Regions from separate parts of the Homo sapiens genome. Here all the other regions are linked to region 1. Evidence: fine-mapped expression QTL. A gene starts in region 1. Each other region holds a variant in brackets. All regions are shown on one strand. Distances are from middle to middle.

The links. PIP is the estimated chance that this variant, and not a neighbour inherited with it, causes the effect.
Region 2: its variant is the best candidate, but not a certain one, in a credible set for the expression of DOCK2 in whole blood (INTERVAL, PIP 0.86).
Region 3: its variant is the best candidate, but not a certain one, in a credible set for the expression of DOCK2 in whole blood (TOPMed, PIP 0.60).

What each region holds. Positions count from the first base shown.
Region 1 is chr5:169,634,898-169,639,073 of GRCh38, reverse strand. DOCK2 (dedicator of cytokinesis 2) reads right to left here and starts at 1,799. Exons shown (of 52, transcript NM_004946.3): 1 at 1,705-1,799. The coding sequence starts at 1,747. RefSeq lists an enhancer at 1,002-1,101 and silencers at 1,362-1,421, 1,452-1,931.
Region 2 is chr5:169,927,823-169,932,099 of GRCh38, reverse strand. All of the region lies in intron 27 of DOCK2 (dedicator of cytokinesis 2), which reads right to left. All of the region lies in intron 1 of INSYN2B (inhibitory synaptic factor family member 2B), which reads left to right. Among named protein-coding and RNA genes, the nearest start is that of INSYN2B, 51 kb to the left of the region's middle. The variant A/G (reference allele first, on the strand shown) is at 1,864.
Region 3 is chr5:170,033,954-170,038,230 of GRCh38, reverse strand. It overlaps DOCK2 (dedicator of cytokinesis 2), which reads right to left. Exons shown (of 52, transcript NM_004946.3): 35 at 3,676-3,832; 36 at 1,676-1,716. Among named protein-coding and RNA genes, the nearest start is that of MIR378E, 7.6 kb to the right of the region's middle. The variant C/A (reference allele first, on the strand shown) is at 1,769.

The DNA.
Region 1 (4,176 bases):
GGTTGGCACTCAAAGCCCTTCACAATCTAGCCATAATCTACCTCTGAAATTTTTTTAACACTAAAAGCAATACTAAAACCAAAACAGACTACTTATTGTTTGACCCACACACTTCAGGGATGCCAGTTCCCTGCCTTTACCCATGATGTTCCCCTTCTAGATGCTTTTCTGGTGCCATGCAAAGGGCCTAGGGTCTGAAGACAATTGAATTTAAGGCCCGCTCCATTGCTTCCAAGTGATGTAAACTTGGTTACTTCACCTGTAAGTTGGGAATAATACACTGCCTCACATGGGGGTTCTGAAGTCAGACAGAGATTGCATGACCTTTGGTCTTGCAAACCATGAAATACTACAGTCTCATAAGGCATGACTGTCCTGAATCTGGCATTAGGGTGCATCTTGGTGCTGGTGTCTCTTGGTTCTGAAGCTGCTAGGTAAGACCCTGGACCTGAATCACTAACTCTTATTGAGCCAGCACACTACTAAATGCTTTCCATGCATAACCCCATTCAATCCTCACAAGAGTCTCATGAGACCTGCATTATTATTACTTCCACTTTATAGACGAGGAAACAGACCCTGATTTGAACTCAGTTCTGACTTCCCAGTCCAAGCCTCTAGCCTTACACATAACTCCTCAAGGGCAGAAGCTGTATCCTTCCTTACTTTGTAACTGCCCCTTGAGATATGAATTATTATTTGTTCTCTGGATGGGGACCATTTATATCAAAATGACCCCACAGTGCCCGGTACCCAGTAATTGAGTGGATAACTGCTGATCTCTCCAGGGCAGTGTTTCCCAAACAGTGGCCTGGGGACCCCCTGCATCAAATCCCTCTGGGTGTTTGGGTCTTCCAATGCCTCACCTGCGAAATATTTATCTCTGAGATGGTGTCTGGTATCCGCCTGTGTAGGAAGCTCCAGAGTGACTTTTTATTTGATATTTAAGTTTAAAAACCACAGTGAGTCCATGGAGATTGCACCACGGATGACACTTAGAGTAGCAGCACCTGAGGCCTCCCTTCCCCCAGCCACCACTTCCGCCCCTGAGCTCCAGGCAGAGGCTTCTGGGAGTTTAGATGGCTGAGGCTGACGAAGCTAGCTTCTTGGTTACCCTAAGACCACCTGGCGGGAGCCTTTTTCCCCAGAGGCTCTGGGGGGCTGAGTAGAGAACCCCACCGTCCAGCCCCATTCCCCCAAGCTTGAGCTGCCCTCTGGATGCCCTGCCAAATCAGGAGTCATCTGACCCAGGAGGAACAGACAGGGGAAGCAGGCAAATGGGTGTCGCTTTGGAGGGGGTGGAAGTATGCATGGTGGGCAGGCCAAGGCTGAGCCAGGGGAGAGTGGAGCTCCCTCTACAAGGCCAAGTCTCCCACGCGGCGAGCTGGGGCACTCCTGGGGACGCCGAGTTTGGCGCGAAGAACTGAGTTGTCAAGCGCAGGTCTTGACCCTATCTCGGAAATGTCTAAGGTTCCCTCAGCAGGCGAGAGGGCGAGGGCTGTGCTTAGCCTGCGGGGTGGGGTCCCGCCGTCCTCTCCCCGAGCCTCGGCTTTCCCGCCCCGAGGCCCCGCCGCAGGCTGCGCCCTCTGACCTGCAGGCAGCGCGCCCTGCCCACCCCGCGCCGCCGGCCCCGCAGCATCCTCCTGCTCGCGGCTCTCCCGCCACCTGTCCCGCTCCCTGCCGCGCCCTGGGGCCCGCACCTACCCACGCCGTGCCGCTCCTTGTCAGCTTTGCGCCAGGGGGCCATGGCTGGGCCGGGGCCTCGCGTCCTCCCGTGGGGAAGCCGTCAGGGGGTGGCTGGGCGCCGCAGGGCCCCACTTCCTTCCTCTTTTCAAACTCCTCTCAGGGCCCGCCCTCTCCTCCCTCGCCGGGGCTCCCCGCTCCCTCCTCCCTCCCGTTGGGCAGGGGCACACTAGAAGGCTGGTGCCCCGTAGGCTAAGACACGCCACCCCACCCCACTTCACGCAAAACTTGGGGACCACTCCCACTTTGTCTCCTCCCCAGGCGAGGGAGCAGAGGCCAGTCCCCACCTGGGGCTCGCCAGACCACCACCGCAAGTGCAGAGAGTTTCCTGATTGCCGTGCCTAGGGACTGAACAAACCTCCTTAACTCCCCTCAGCATGAGCTTTGGTGTCAGATCTCGGTTCGAATCCAGACGGGGACAAATGACTTCATTTTTCTAAGCTTCAGTTTTCTCATCTGTGAAATGGGATACTAATACCTACTTCATATGATTATTGTGAGGGTTAGAGAGACAATGTACACAGCAGGTGACATGGAAGAGTAAATGTTTACCTGGAGGTGGATCCTTTACAGCCTTTTTTTTTTTTTTTTGTGAGACGGAGTTTCGAGTTTCTCTCTTGCTGCCCAGGCTGGAGTGCAACGACGCGATCGCGGCTCACCGCGACCTCCGCCTCCCGAGTTCAAGCGACTCTCCTGTCTCAGCCTTCCCAGTAGCTGGGATTACAGGCATGCACCAGCATGCCCGGCTAACTTTGCATTTTCAGTAGAAACGTGGTTTCTCCATGTTGGTCATGCTGGTCTCGAACTCCCCACCTCAGGTGATCCGCCAGCCTCAGCCTCCCAAAGTGCTGGGATTACAGGTGTGAGCCACCGTGCCTGGCCCATTTACAGCTTTTTATCGTTTTGGTGCTACAAACCCGTTGGAAAATCTGATGTAAGCTCTAGAAGCTCTACTCTGAAAATACGTAAATACACTATTTACCAACATCACTGCAAGGTGAAGGGTGCTGTCACAGCCAGCAACAGTGGGACCCAGGAAAAGAGCCCTAGAGTTAGGCTAATGGAGACATTTCCTCGAAAAATCTCATTTTTGCTCTGAGAACAGATTCTGTCCAAAAAAAAAAAAAAAAAGTCTGATCCACAGTGATAAGGCTGAATTTAAGTTTTGCTGAGTTTTCTTTCTTTATTCATGACTCTCACTACCCCTTTCTGCCTTACACTGGAGAGTCATTAAGATAGATTAGGCAATATCACAGCTGAACTGGAGCAACAAAAAATTATTGATTTTGTTTTATCTGCAGTTATTTTCTTTTCTGTTTTCTAGCAGCACAAATTAGGTAATAATGTCTTATACAGTCAGCAGTGGTATTAGGGTTCCACCAGATGACCAGAGTAGGAGATTTTATATATATGCATACATATATATACATACATACATATATGCATATATATATACACATACATACATACATATATGCATATATATACACATACATATATGCATATATATACACATACATATATGCATATATATATACACATACATATATGCATATATATATATATATATATACACATACATATATATGTATATGAGAGACAGAGAGAGATTGGGGATTGGCTAATGCGATTGTGGGGCTGTCAGGAAGAGCAGTTTGGAAACTCACAGGCAGATGTCCTCAGGAGGAATTTCTTCTTTTTCAAGGAACCTCAGTTCTATTCATAAGGTTTGTCAACTAATTGGATCACACCAACCAAATGTATTGAGGATAATCTCCCTTAATTAAATTCAATGTATGGTAGATGTTAATCACATCTACAAAGTACTTCACAGCAACCCCTGTGAAGATTGTGAAGATTGGTATTTGATTGAATAACTGGGCCATAGCCTTGCCAAGTTGACTCACAAAACTAGCTATCACAACAATGTTATAAATTGGGACTATACAATAGAGGATGCCAAACATTTTCTGTAAAGTCACAGATAGTATTTTAGTCTTTGCAGTCCAGAAAGCAAAATCAAGTATATATGTAGGATGCAGGTACTTATGTAAAGAAAGAAAAAAGGTTCTAAATTTTTTTTATTAATAAAATTCAAAATATCATGTGAATGAGTATTTTTTGTAATACTAGCTTAGTAAGGCAAAAAAAAATACATTTTGGGAATGATATCACATTTCACCTTATTGGAGTTCAAAGTTAATGTGCCTTATCGAAATTGATTCAAATATTCATATGTTAATGCTGATCTGACAGGATATTTACTTTCTATTTCTGAAAAAAATGTTTACCAAATGGGCAATGGTTAAAAGTCCAGAAAAGCTAATAAAATTAACCTTTGATACCACTGATTCAATAACATCACAGATTTAGATATTTTCCACAAAGTACCTGATGGTGAATATTACAATTAATAATCATAAGCTTTAAATA
Region 2 (4,277 bases), 290 kb before region 1:
CCACTGGATGTTGTATCTTCTTTGTTTACTGCATCTGTGCCTAACTCCCCACTAAAATATAAGCATCATGAGGTCAGGACTCTGTTGGGCTTATGGCTGTATTCCTAGCACCTAGAGCAGTTCCTGGCAGGCAGCAGGCTCCAGAGGTATTTGTTGAATACATGAATGAGTGAATGAATGCATGATATTTTCCCTGACCCACAGTGAAGAAAGAGGAACATAGAGAAGGGCAGGCAGGAGGGAAGCAGTTCAGAAGGCTATGATCCCTGGAGGAAGGATTCCTGTTATTTCTGGGGCTAGCTGGGAATTGTCCTCTGGGCCACTTGGCTGTGCTTCCATCTCCTGGAAGCACAGTGCCAGCCACCTTCTCCCATGTGAGCTACTGTGCTAGGAACTTCACCTTCCTCACTTATAACCCTCACCACCATCTCACACAGCAGCATTAGCCCAGTTTCACAGACAAGGAAGCAGGCTCAGAGATCTTGTGTCAGTTTGCCAAAGTCAAACAGCGAATAAGTAACTGAAATGAAATTAAAACCCGAATTGGTCTGACCTCCCACCCCAAAACAACTTTCCACAAAACGATACCACCTCATAAAATAACCACATCTAATTTTATATGCCAGGAACTTAGTGCACTTGGATAGGTGGAAAGAGTTTCTTCAAAGAAGTCTGAGGGTTCAGGCGAACGGGAGAAGTGTTCAATTGCCGAGAGGCGGCAATATCAAGGCAAGCCCTTTGAGAGACGCTGGTGTTTGTGTTCTTCCCACTGACCCACTGTTGGAAGTAAGACCTGTACTTTGATGGCTTTGTCAGCAACTGGGCTGGGTTGAGCCAAGCCTTCCTCACTCTCCTGGTCGTCTTTGGGATGCACATGTATTTGTAAGATGGTTTCCTAGAGCTGGGCTCTGTAGGAAGGTAACTTTCATGACTCAAAATATCCCAGACAATGCTTAATCCTAAGATCAAGGGTGTTAGTAGCATCATTAGTTTGGCCAATGAGTCAACCAGTCAAGCAAAGCCACTTTATCTTTACCTGGAGGAAAACAACTTCCCACAAATCCACTTTTCCTAGCTTAGAAACTCCCCTCTGTCTGGCACACACATGAGTACCTGCCATGGCTGTGCAGGAGCACCTTGTAAAAGGGACTGGCCCATGACATGTGATGAGGATGCTTTTCCTTGGGACAGGTATCCTTTATTGTATTTATGTGTATGGCTAATTTGTTGTGAATGTGAGAAGAAAATGAAGTGCAACCCCCAATGAAGAGCTGAAAGCATAAGAAAAGAAACCAAGAGAGATGGTTTCTCAACAACCTGGAAATGGAGGCTCACCCACAGTGCCTTCCACCCGACTCTCAAAGGGCGAAGATGTAGACTGCAGTGAGAGAAGCAACCCTTCTTGAAATTAATAATTCAAGGTAAAATTACAAAACTTAATTGCTCCCTGTCAGCCGCAGCTCATCCTTGTCTACCGTTATTTTGCACAAATTGATTTGGCAGCCACCACATTCATTTTTAAAGGACTTTCTTATTATCTATAGCCTGTTAATATGTTCATTCTTCACCCTTGTAAGTAATTCCAGGCAGATTTTTACTCATTTACCATGAATGAAGCTCACATTTCAGAGGAGAAGGGAAATTGTCCAAGAAATGTCATCCCAGAGGACACACATTACCCTAAGAGGCTCTGAGGTCCCTCGAGCCCAGACAACCCCAGTCGTGAGTGCATAAGGAGAACTAAAGCCAGAGTGTCTTCTGAAGTCCTGCTTTAACCATCACCCATATGTGGTTATTTAAATTTAAATTAGGCCAGGTGCGGTGGCTCAAGCCTGTAATCCCAGCACTTTGGGAGGCCGAGGC[A/G]GGCGGATCACAAGGTCAGGAGATTGAGACCATCCTAGCCAACATGGTGAAACCCCCATCTCTACTAAAATGCAAAAAATTAGCTGGGCATGGTGGAATGCACCTGTAGTCCCAGCTACTCGGGAGGCTGAGGCAGGGGAATCACCGGAACCCAGGAGGCAGAGATTGCAGTGAGCTGAGATCGTGCCACTGCACTCCAGCCTGGTGACAGAGCAAGATTCTGTCTCAAAAATAAACAAAATAAATAAATAAATAAACAAATAAAGTTCTATTCTTCAGTCACATTAGCCCTATTTCAATGTTTAATATGTTTAATATGCATATGTTTAACAGGCATGTGTGGCTAGTGGCTACCATATTGGAGCACAAAACAAGGAGCACAAAACAAGATTTCTATCCTCATATAAGGGTCTATAGGAAAGTGCTAGGTCAAGCTTTCAGACTCCAGCAGGATAGCTTCTTTCTCTCTCTCTCTTTTTTTTTTTTTTTTTTTTTGAGACAGGGTCTCACTCTGTTGCCCAGGCTGGAGTGCAGTGATCCCCTCTTGGCTCACTGTGACCTCCATATCCCAGGCTTGAGTGATTCTCCTGCCTCAGCCTCCGAGTAGCAGGGACTACAGGCATGTGCCACCACACTCAGCTAATTTTGTTGTTGTTGTTGTTGTTAGAGACAAGGTTTCATCATGTTGCCCAGGCTGTTTTCAAACTACTGGGCTCAAGCAATCCTCCCCCCTCAGCCTTCCAAAGTGCTGGGATGACAGGCATAAGCCACCACACCTGGCCACAGGATGACTTCTTACCATCTTATCTCATCCCATGGCAAGATAAGCTAGGAGTTCTGTATATCGTTTGCCGGGATTCGCTTTGTGGAAAATCTACGTGTAAAAAGCTATGGGATTTGTCTGAGTCTTACCCATGTGAGATGAACTTGTTGGTGTCAATGGGGAAAGGAAAGAGAAATGTTTACCATATGGCCAAGGATGGTGGAGGAAGAGATTGGAAAATACTGGCCCTTGGGGCTTTGGCTTATAAATGTGTCATGACTTGAACTTGAAAACACCTTTAACCCCCTGCTATGCCTAAGTGCTATGTGCGTGGGCTTCCTGCATAGGCACTCTGGTTCCCTTTCAAGGCAGGGCATGACAGAACTTCAGTCTACCTGGCCAGCTGTGGGCCCAGGTTGACCTCAAGCTTTCCATCTGCTCTTCTCAGGGCACAAAGATGAACAGAACACATAGCTCCTCCTCATCCTACATGTTTGGCCTTTTAGTCTATCTCAAAGCAAGCTTTGGCATAATTAATAGCGCAGTTATCTGCTAATTATTCCACTATTCAAGCAGGAACAGAAACACCCAGGGCATAGAGTGAGCATCATGTGCACAATTAATAATTTTCATCACTGAGTAATTACTTGTGTAGTATTTAACCTAATAACATTAGATCTGCATTATTGGGCTGTGGTTGCTATTTTCTTCCACCCACTCATTCCTGTATAACTGTTCTCTATGAAGGTGTCATAACTTGTTGAGAAATCATATTTTTTTCTAATGCTTTACGCTTCAACAGTTTGGATGTATTTAGATCTCTCTGCCTCTTTTAAAAGTTTGTCTCCTGCTAGGCCTCCATGACACTGTCCTTTCCATGCTTTCTTGGCCTCTCTTTTGGATGGACGATGCTTCATGTCACTCACTGGTTTTGGCCTCCTGCTCAGCAAGGTTACTCCCGTAACTTGGATTCACTCTCAGCAGCACTGATGCATGGGGAAGCGAGGAGGCTGGCTCTGGTAGAACTAAGGCTGGGGAACCTGCCTGACTACGTGAAAACAGCGGGGCATTCTGGGGCAGAGCAGTGCAAACCCAGACCTGGTTCATTCAGGTGGAGATAGGGCATCCCTGGTAAGGCAGCACTGCCACTGGTCAGAACAGGGCAAGAACAGACTGGGCAAGAACAGGCTGGCCCACCGAGGGCCATCTGGTGTAAGACCTGTGGCAGCAATAACTGTAGACCCCTCCTGCTGGTGCATTGAGGCTGCTGTCAATATTGGTTTGGCCTTGGGTGGGGCAAGTCAATGAGGTGGCTGATCCTGAGTTGCAGGGGGAAGGGTTTGGCTGGGAAGGCCTGAAGGAACCCCAGGTTGACAGTATCTTATCCTGCTTCTGTGGACTTTCTCCCTGATATTTGTACCCTCTCTACCACCTGTTTAAGAAAAAATGCATACACACACATGGATCTGTGAGTTAATTCCCACACCTACTGAAACCCAAGGAAGATTCCTGCTGGTTATACCATCTCATCATCCAGCCCTGAATAAAGAATTTTTCGGGCCGGGAGCAGTGTCTCATGCCTGTAATCCCAGCACTTTGGGAGGCCGAGACGGGTGGATCATGAGGTCAGGAGATTGAGACCATCCTGGCT
Region 3 (4,277 bases), 400 kb before region 1:
TAGTACTTCATTTAATCCTCAAAACAGAAGGTAGGACGGAAACATTCTACAGGTAGGAAAACCTCAACCCAGAAAGATTGAGTAATTTATCCAAGGTTACAGAAAAAGTGAGGCAAGGACCGAGGTCCTTCAGACCCCAAAGCTTTGTGCTGCTACAATAAGGTATGACTAGTGATGTTATAAATATCCCAAACTCAGGACAACCTATAAAATTATTTTTCTCCAAATGATAGCTCCTATTTCTGGAGTAATGCTAAACTAGGTACCTAGATATATCTGCCGTAATAGCAGAGTGAGCGTAGACTTGAAGTTTCTGCCCTCTGACAGAATGTGACAAAAGCCCTGTAAATACCTTGCTCCTCAATCTTCTGGTTGACTCTACCTCAAGGGCTCCAGCCTCATAAGGATGTGCATAAAGGTATACGTCCAAGAATTTTGTTGTTGTGGCCGGACGCAGTGGCTCACGCCTGTAATCCCAGCACTTTGAGAGGCCAAGGTGGGTGGATCACCTGAGGTTGGGAGTTCGAGACCAGCCTGGCCAACATGGTGAAACCCCGTCTCTACTAAAAATACAAAATTAGCCAGGTGTGGTGGTGCAGGCCTGTAGTCTCAGCTACTCGGGAGGCTGAGGCAGGAGAATCACTTGAACCCGGGAGGCAGAGGTTGCAGTGAGCTGAATAGGCACCACTGCACTCCAGCCTGGGCAACAAGAGCGAAACTCTGTCTTTAAAAAAAAAAAAAAAAAAAAAATTTGTTTTTGTGCTTTTTATTGTAGAAAAAGTTGGAAACAATCTAAATGTTCAACAATATAGGATTGGCTATATAAATGATGATATATTCTGGAAAAAATTTTATAGTTTCATTAAAAATGATGTTGATATACATCTGTCAACATGGAGTTCTTGTCAAGTTAGAAAAAGCAAAGAATAAATTACAAGTAATATAAACCCATTTTTGCAAAAAATATGCATGCATAGAATTCAATGTATATATAAATATAAAAAAGTCCTGGAAATATGTATGGATTATGGGAATTTATTTCATTTGTTGTGTTGCTTGCCCATATTTTATAAGTTTATTTTTGTTTTGTAATAAGTATATATTTTTTATTATAAATAAAAGTAACAATAATTTTTAAATTGCAGAAAAAAATATGAGATTCTGAGAAAAACTGGCAAAGGAGTTCTTTGCTTCAGGCTAATGTCCCCAAAAAACCTTCATGATATATTCAAATAATATCATTTAAATGCCTACAAGGATGCAGATATCATGCATCTTAGTATCTTTTTTTTCCCTTCAAAACTGGGCTAGTCAATGGTCTTACTACATGTCTGGACTCAGGCTTCACAGTAATTTATCCAAGGTCAGGCCCGCAACAATGCAAATGCACCCCAACAGTTCAAATCACAAAGTATTCACTCTTAAGGAAAATATGATCTGTGGGAACAACAGGACAGCATGGAAGGCCAGACGATTTCACGTGGTTTTATGGGGCTGACTGTGGGAGAATGAAAGGAATTGAATCTGGAGAAATTGACAGGAATCAGAACACAGAGGGCCTGAATGTCAAGAAGAGAAGTTTAAATTTTATCCTGAAGGCAGCAGGGAGCCATCGATGGATACTGAGCAGGAAAGTGACACAGCAGGTCTGGATTTTAGAAAATATGAATCTTACCTTATGTACATCTCCTCCCTGTTGTTATCTTTGTAGAAATTCTAGGTAGGGGAGGAAAAACAATGATGAGTGTTGTTCTCTGCAATATCACAG[C/A]GGTCAAGGGTGTGGTGATGAAGATGAGAGGAAGATTGCTGTCTAGTATCTGGGTACCCTGAGATAGGAATAAGAAACTTATTTTCCTGGATGCCCCAAAGATGCATCAAACAGCCTAATTGGAAGATTCTGCTTTGAAAGTCACTTCCCTGACCCTTAGACTATAAAGGAACAGAGAGGACTTGATGTGTCTCAGCCATCACATATCAGGAGGGGCAGTTCAGTGTTTTGCTGCATTGAGAGGTGGGCTGCCAAGACTGGGGTAGTCTACTTTAACCAGGCCCACATTGAAAGGCAGCCCAGCTTGATGTTTCAAAGCTCAGGCCTTGCACTGGAAAGAACCTGAGTTGGAAAGTGAGTGGTAGCACCTCGGTAATAGTAAGAGATCAGAATTCCTGATAGTGCAGAACTATCAGGAATTATATGGGATTCTGTCGCCAAAACATTTAAACTTGGCAATACGTAGGAATCTAGGTCCCTATTCCAGCTCAGGGGCCATTTAGATTAGTAGCTGCCCTGGACTTCACCACCAGAGATCCTAATCCTGTGGCATTTTTTAAACAAGTCCCTACAGATTCTGAGCCAGGTGGTCCTGGTCCAATCCATGAGCCACACCAGGTGTATATCCTGGTTTAATGCAGCACACCCACGTGCACCTGAGGGTCAGAGAAGGGTGGTGACATGTTCCAGAGCACACAGTCAATGGGTGGCAAATCATACTGGACATCATTTGTCCTGATACCACCTCCATCCCCACCCTCCTCCTTGACACCATATTTAAGCAATGCACTAAAAACTAGTGGTGTCTCAGTGCTTGGAGAACTGTCTGTCCCAAGCATTCTCCCTGATCTTAGCTGGCTGTTAAAGGTCACTTTCCTCAACCAACTCTGTCTCTCCTTAGAGAGAAGCTGCTCAGCTCGTGGAAAACACCTCTTCATGATCTTTATGTAAACTGGGCCTGGTGGAGTTATTAGCAATGAATTCCTTTCTGCTGTCATCGGGATTTTTAAACTCTCCTTGGCATTCTAGAAAATCAATGGCAATATCTAGGCTGTTGAAAAAAAAAGTCTATTTAGGGTAAAGGGAGGCCACACAACAGAGCTCTGGGGACAGGTTTTGTGTTTCAGGAGCCTTGGGAATGGTAGGGAGGTTGATGTGATGGATGTCACGTGGCCTTTTGGTCAACTTCATTCTTTTAAACCACTTTAAGGTGGGATGACACGGTGAATATGAAGCATTATGGCTGCTTACCTACCTGTCTCCTGGTCGAATCACAGAGCGTGTGAGAGAGGCTGCTTGGCAGCCAGCCCATGGGAGCTCATGGAATATAGGGGTTAAGAACTTGGGTCTGGGGTTAGCTTCTCTGGTTAACCTGGTTCATAGTAACAGCAATTCTAGTTATTAGTGTGACTCCATTCTATAAGAAGAAGGAAACTAATACGTAGTGAGCATTTAACCATGGGCCAGGGCAACACAACCTAATGAAATTGGAACCATTATTTTCTCCATGTAATAGATAAGCAAACTAAGACTTCAGAACATTTCCTTAGCTTGTCCATCCCATTAATTATCAGATATAGGATGGAAACCCAGAGGCTGTGTGACTCCAAAGCTCATACTCTTAGCCAGTCTATACTGTCATCTTCCTTCCATGTGATGTGTTGAGTGCTAAAGGGAATATGCATTAATCTCATGTTATAAATAAGGAGGCAGGCATAGAAAGGTGAAGTGACGGCCTCAAGACACAAAGCTAGCAGAAAGCGCAGCAGACGTTCCATTCCACATTTGTCTGCTTTCCAAAGCCCTTAAGCACTGCTTCCCTATGAAGAACAATCGTGAGACCCAAAGCCAAGCCCAAGCCCCCCCACAGGGTTCTGGTCTGACTTGGACCCGCCAGCCCCACGCACCAGCAGGTTCACGGTGCAGCTCATGCGGTTGTCTTTGCTCTCATCTGTCATCACACCCCGGTAATCCAGCAGCTTCTCCAGGAGGCCTTTGACCAGGTTCACGAAGTTCTCCACCGACTTGGCAATGGTTGGGTGCTCTGCAGCACATTCCATCAGGCTGCGGCAGAGACCAGAGGGCAGTGAGCTCATGGCTGGGGAGAAAGACTGTGCTGGGGCCAGTGGGCGGTGGGATGGAGCACATGCAAAATCAGTCAGTCAACCCAAGTTCCCTGACTGCTCCTTTTGTTCATTTATTCATGTATTTATCCATATAGTGCAGCAATTTTTTTTCTAACATCAGAATGGGAAAAAATAAAAATAAAATAGTTTCCAATATAGATAATGATGGTGGGGGAGATGGTCACTTTTACCCACCCCTGCTGAGAATAAATCAAGAAAACTTTTTTGGGGAAGCAATTTTCAAAGTATCTGTAAAAATTGTAAATGCACATATCCTCTGACCCCACAACTCTACTTTGCAGAATCTGTTCTACAGAAATATTCTCAGAAGTATGCAAAGATATAATACTCACAAATGTGTCTAATAGTGAAATAGATGGAAC